2 separate regions of the Homo sapiens genome follow, and region 1 is linked to region 2. The links come from fine-mapping of genetic effects on gene expression. A gene starts in region 2. The other region holds a variant in brackets. All regions are shown on one strand. Distances are between the middles of the regions. Region 1 has its middle 30 kb from the start of MYBPC1. Region 2 holds the start of WASHC3 (WASH complex subunit 3).

Region 1 (2,912 bases), 500 kb after region 2:
AAGCCACGTAAAAGGAAAGAAAGCTTTCCTTTCCTCTCTGGCCTGTCAAAGGGCATTCTCCCCGCACCCAGACTCCTAAAGAGGAAGGATTCTTGCTTATGGAAGGAAAGCTAGGTGAGCCTAAAGAAAAAGTTGGGGATGGAGGTAGTAGGAGTTAGAGTGAAAGGAAAACATTCTGGGAATGGATGTTAGACGTTTGGAGATGCTGGAGAAAGGTTTGCAACTGCAGAGTGCAAAGGAGGTAGATGAGACAGGAGAGAGGATTTTAATAAGTGCTGCAGTGAAATATGCATTTGGGTTTTTTTTTTTGAAATTTCTTTGAGAGATGCAAGCAAAAGTGGAAGACTTTTATAATTTTTTTTCTGTTGACTTTTGCTTCTTGTTTTTTTGTTTTGTTTTGTGTTTGAGACAGAGTCTCACTCTGTCACCCAGGCTGGTGTGTAGTGGTGCAATCTCAGCTCCCTGTAGCCTCCGCCTCCCAGGTTCAAGCGATTCTTGCCCCAGCCTACCAAGCAGCTGGGACTGCAGGTGTGCACCACCACACCCGGCTACTTTTTGTATTTTCAGTAGGCATGCGGTTTCGCCATGTTGGCCAGGCTAGTCTCAAACTCCTGGCCTCAAATGATCTGTCCGCCTCAGCCTCCCAAAGTGCTGGAATTACAGGCGTGAGCCACCGCGCCCGGCCAACTTTAGCTTCTTTAAATGCAACTCTGTGCAGAGATGGGTATGTACGGAACTTCCCCCTTCTAGATTTATTATTGTTACATCTTTGTCCACACTTCACATCCCTAGGCAAAGATCAAGGAGAAGACTGTTTCTGGAAGAGGCAGAGGGAACAGACAACGCGAAGTCCCTAAATGGGAACAAGTTTGAGTTATTGGAGGAAGTCGGTGTGAGTGGAGTTTAGGGGAAGGCAGGGAGTTACAAAATGAGGTTGGAGTGATGGGCAGAGGTTAGATCCTGCAGCACTCTGAAGTTCAGGAAAGATTTCAGAGTCTATTCTAAGTGTAGGGGAAAATAAATGACTTAAAACCTTCCATTGGAAGGTTTTAAGAAGAGGAGTAGTGTTATGAACCAAATGTGTATGTCTCCCCAAAATTCATATGTTGAAATCCTAACCTCCAATGTGATGGTGTTAGGAGGTGGGTCTTTCAGGGGTGATTAGGTCATGAGGGTAGAGCCTCATGAATGGGATTAGTGCCCTTATGACAAGAGACAGGAGAGCTTGCCGTCCTTCCGCACTCCAGCATGTGAAGATTCAAGAAGATGGCCATCTGTAAAACCAGGAAGTGGATCCTCACCAAATACTGGATTGGCCAAGCACCTTGATCTTGAACTTCTCAGCCTTCAGAACTGTGAGAAATAAATTTATGTTGTTTGTAAGCCACCAGTTTATGGAAATTTGTCATAACAGCACAAACTGAGACAAATGGAATGATTTATTTTATTTTTTAAGAGTTTCTGGGCCAGGTGCAGTAGTTCAGGTCTGTAATTCCAGCACTTTGGGAGGCCAAGGTAGGAACACTGCTTGAGCTCAAGAGTTTGAGACCAGCCTGGGCAACATGGTGAAACCCCGTCTCTACAAAAAAAAAAAAA[T/AT]ACAAAAACTAGCCAGCCGTGGTGGCACACACCTGTGGCCCCAGCTACTGGGGAGGCTGAGGTGGAAGTGTTGCTTGAGCCTGGGAGGTTGAGGCTGCAGTGAGCCATGATTATGCCACTGCACTCCAGCCTAGGCAAGAGCAAGACTTTTAAAAAAATAAGTAAATAAATAAGACTTGGTTTGGGCACGGTAGCTCACGCCTGTAATACCAGCACTTTGGGAGGCCGAGGTGGGCAGATCACCTGAGGCCCGGAGTTCAAGACCAGCCTCACCAACATGGAGTAACCCCATCTCTACTAAAAATACAAAAATTAGCCGGACGTGGTGGTGCATGCCTGTAATCCCAGCTAACAAACATGCCTATAACAAACATCCCAGATAACATGCCTGTAATCCTAACTAACAAAGAGGCTGAGGTGGGAGAATCACTTGAACCCAGGAGGTGAAGGTTGCGGTGAGCCAAGATCGCACCATTGCACTCCAACCTGGGCATCAAGAGCAAAACTCCGTCTCAAAAAAAAAAAAAAAAAAAGACTTTCTGGTTGCTGTTGCTGTGATGAGATTGGATTTATGGGGCAGGTGGCAGCAGAATCAGGGAGATCAGCTAACAGGTTTTTACATCTGTCTAGCTGGCTTGGATGATACTGGTGGCAAGGGGATGGACAGATGTGTAATATTTGGGATATGCTTTGGAGATTAGAGTTTACAGGGTTTGCTGATGAATTAATGTAGGGAGGTGGGGGAAAAAGAAGAAATCAAGGACCTCATAAATTTTTAGCATGAGTCTCTGGATGTGTGATATTGCCATTTATTGAGATGGGGGAGACAGAAGAGGGAGCAGATTTGGGGAAAAAAAGTAAAAAGTTCTGTTTTGGACATGCTGTTTGGGATGCCTGGTACAGACATCCACGTGGAGAGATTAAGTAGGCAGTTGACTGTTTGAATCTAGAGTTCATTCAGGGAAGAGTTCAGGGCTGGAGGTATTGATTTGAGAGTCATTGGCATATCAATTGAACCACAGGTCCAGATGAGATGTCCTAAAATTCTGCTGCTACAGAAGACAGCGGGCCCAGGAACAAACTCTGAGACTCCAAATTTACAGGCAGACCAGAGTTAGTAAAGGGGACTGAGGAGTAGAGGCTTGAGAGCTAAAAAGAAAACAAGTAGAGTATGATAGCAGGGAAGCTGAAAAGAAGAAAAGTTTTAAAAGAAAGAAAGCCAAAGGTACCAAATGCTGTTGAGGGATGAAAATAACACTAGAGAAATGACTGCTGAATTTGGCATGATGGAAGTCACCAGTGACTTTGGTGAGTCC
Region 2 (2,912 bases):
GCTACAGATGGCCTATGAATCACATTAGATAAACATGGACTATAGTATCAAATCTGGCATAAAAGGCCCTTAAACGAAAATTTTCTGGCTACGTCTCCTGAGGCAGAATAGGGTCTGGAGGCAGGGAACCTAACGCCGATTCACGCTGACTTCCTAGAACTAAATCAAAAGGTAAACCCCAAATTTCCACACCTAAGTAACAAAAGGACCAGCGGCTACTCCCTTTGCAAATCCCCACCTTTTCTGACAGGCAGATGGAAATTGAAAGTACCTCAACCAATCAGACTGATTGCGGGCCAAATCTTCCTTTGCATAGAAGTGCAACTAAGTAACATCACTTTAGCCAATGATTGGTTGCTTTCCACAACCAATCAGATGTTTGTATAGGAGTATGACCTTTGTCATTTTACTTCAGCCTCTGATTGGTTGCTTTCCATAACCAATCAGACTGATTGTGGGCCACCACTTCATTTGCATGAGGAGAACACCAGTGTCCAATGGGAAATCTCTAGTGGGTATTTGGACCTAAGAAGATTCTGTATCCAGTACACTGTGGAGCGTACTTTGGTTTTCAATGAATCTTTGCTTTTGTTGGTTCATTCTCTCCTTGATTTGTGCGTTTTGTCCAATTCTTTGTTCAAAAGAACCTGGACACCCTCCACCAGTAACACTCTTACCTCATTTCCTACCATTCTCCATTTATGGGATTATTTGCTTCAACCAAACCAACAGGCCAGGTGCCAGTGGCTCACACCTATAATCCCAGCACTTAGGGAGGCCAAGGCATGAGGATCATTTGAGCCAAAGGGTTTGAGACTAAGGTGAGCTATGATCCTCACTGCACGCCAGACTGGGTAACAAAGCGAGACCCCCCATCTTTAAAACAAAACTGCCCACTGCAGTCTTGGTCTTCATCTTTTTGATGCTCCCTGTAAGTGGCAGTCACTTCCGTAGGTTTGTGCCTCACATCTAGTAGTTGACATTTTATTTCATGTTTTAAAAACCTTTGGAAGACCAGGCGCGTTGGCTCACGCCTGTAATCCCAGCACTCTGTGAGGCTGAGGCAGGAGAATCGTGTGAGGCTGAGGCAGGAGAATCGCTTGAGGCCAGGAGTTCGAGACCAGCCTGGGGAAATAGCGAGAACTTGTGTGTATACACACACACACGCTTTGGAAGTAGGTCTTATTTCTCATTCTTCAGGGCATAAACCTCTCCCGTGCAGCAATCAAACTCAATCTTTGTTTTCCCAGTAAAAGCCTAGCAGAGTATATGGCACTTAGGATTAACAACAACAAAAAAAAAATTGTTGCTCAAGGAATGACGGAGTTATTATATAACAGACAGGACTAAGTAGGGATAACCTCAAAAGGACGCAACTTCTGGCTTTGTTTTTTTGTTTTGTTTTGTTGCCTCCTTTCTAAGATTTCAGTGCTCTAACTGCATCCTTGCACCACCGCGCGCCACCCCGAAATTGACGTCACAATCTGGACTAAAACTACCAATCCCAGAATGCCGAGCGAGGAGGCGGGCTCTCCGGAAGCCGCCGAGTGATTAGTGAGCGGAGAAGCTTTCTTCCGGCGGGAAGGGCCCCGGAGGCGGGCACTTGGGGGGAAAGTTGAGACGTGATTACCGGGTTGGGCGGGCCCCATCTGGGAGGGGTTTGTGGGTGAACTCGGGGTCCACCGCCCGCTGAGGAGATGGATGAGGACGGGCTTCCTCTCATGGGGTCAGGCATAGACCTGACCAAGGTTTGTAAAAGACGGTGCTAGACTCCCGACGAGCCGGGAGGAGGATGGGGAAGACGCAGCTTTCCGGGGAGACACCCACCTTCCGAGTCCCCACCCTGTCACGGCCTCGGGCCCTTGTGACAGGCCTGTGGGGCCTCAGGAGGGAGAGCCCCACAGTCCACCTTGAAATGGGGTCCCTCCTGAGCTGATTAAGGAGACGGTGTGCATCTCCCAACTGTCGCTTCCCATCTCGCTTGTCTCTCTGCCGCCGGCGACACACGCCGGTTGCGATAGCTAGCCCTACCTCTTATTCAGCCCCCAAGATTTTGTGTGTGTTTATGTGTGGTGCTTTTTGCCTGCCAAAATTCGTACCAGTGAGTCTAGAGCCTGTTCTCAAACTTTTGTGCACCTCTGTCATCTTCGGACACCCCACCCACAGCTTAGGAAACAAGTTAATGACTATTCCCAGTCCTTCAAGAAATTCATATCACACAGCAAAGTGCCTCGTGATTATGTCCAAATATGAAAAGATTTGCACTGTGTACGTTCCTCCTGTATGAACCATGTTTGTTTTTACGTAACACAGGTGCCAGCTATTCAACAGAAAAGAACGGTGGCTTTTCTAAACCAATTTGTGGTGCACACTGTACAGTTCCTCAACCGCTTTTCTACAGTTTGTGAGGAGGTAGGTCCGGTGATACTGGTTTATAGAGTCGCCTGGAAATCACCTTTCACTGCTGAGACTGACAAATGGAGTAAAACAAGAATTACAGTCTTTATTCATGTACCGTGACCTCTCATCACCCAATTGTGTTAACACATCTTAGGTTCTCTTTTACTCTGTTAAAATCAATCCTGCACCCCTCCTCTACTGAGTTAGTGTTCTAGAGGTCCCTGTGAGATAGGTCAGTCAGGCTTATTGCGATTAAAGGGAACAATAGGAAATCTAATTTTTTTTTTTTTTTTTTTTTTTTTTGTGAGACAGGGTCTCACTCTGTCACCCAAGCTACAGTGCAGTGGCGCGATCTCGGCTCACTGCAACCTCCACCTCCCGGGTTCAAGCGATTCTCCTGCCTCAGCCTCCTGAGTAGCTGGGATTACAGGCATGCGCCACCATGCCTGGCTAATTTTTTATATTTAGTAGAAACGGGGTTCCAACATGTTGATCAAGCTGGTCTCGAATTC

What was found.
Region 1: its variant is fine-mapped to the expression of WASHC3 in rectum (CEDAR, PIP 0.95).

The regions. Positions count from the first base shown.
Region 1 is chr12:101,563,478-101,566,389 of GRCh38, reverse strand. No RefSeq gene overlaps it. Among named protein-coding and RNA genes, the nearest start is that of MYBPC1, 30 kb to the left of the region's middle. RefSeq lists an enhancer at 1-39. The variant T/AT (reference allele first, on the strand shown) is at 1,597.
Region 2 is chr12:102,060,748-102,063,659 of GRCh38, reverse strand. It overlaps WASHC3 (WASH complex subunit 3), which reads left to right and starts at 1,669. Exons shown (of 7, transcript NM_016053.4): 1 at 1,669-1,748; 2 at 2,314-2,412. The coding sequence starts at 1,698. RefSeq lists enhancers at 1,751-1,950, 1,961-2,010.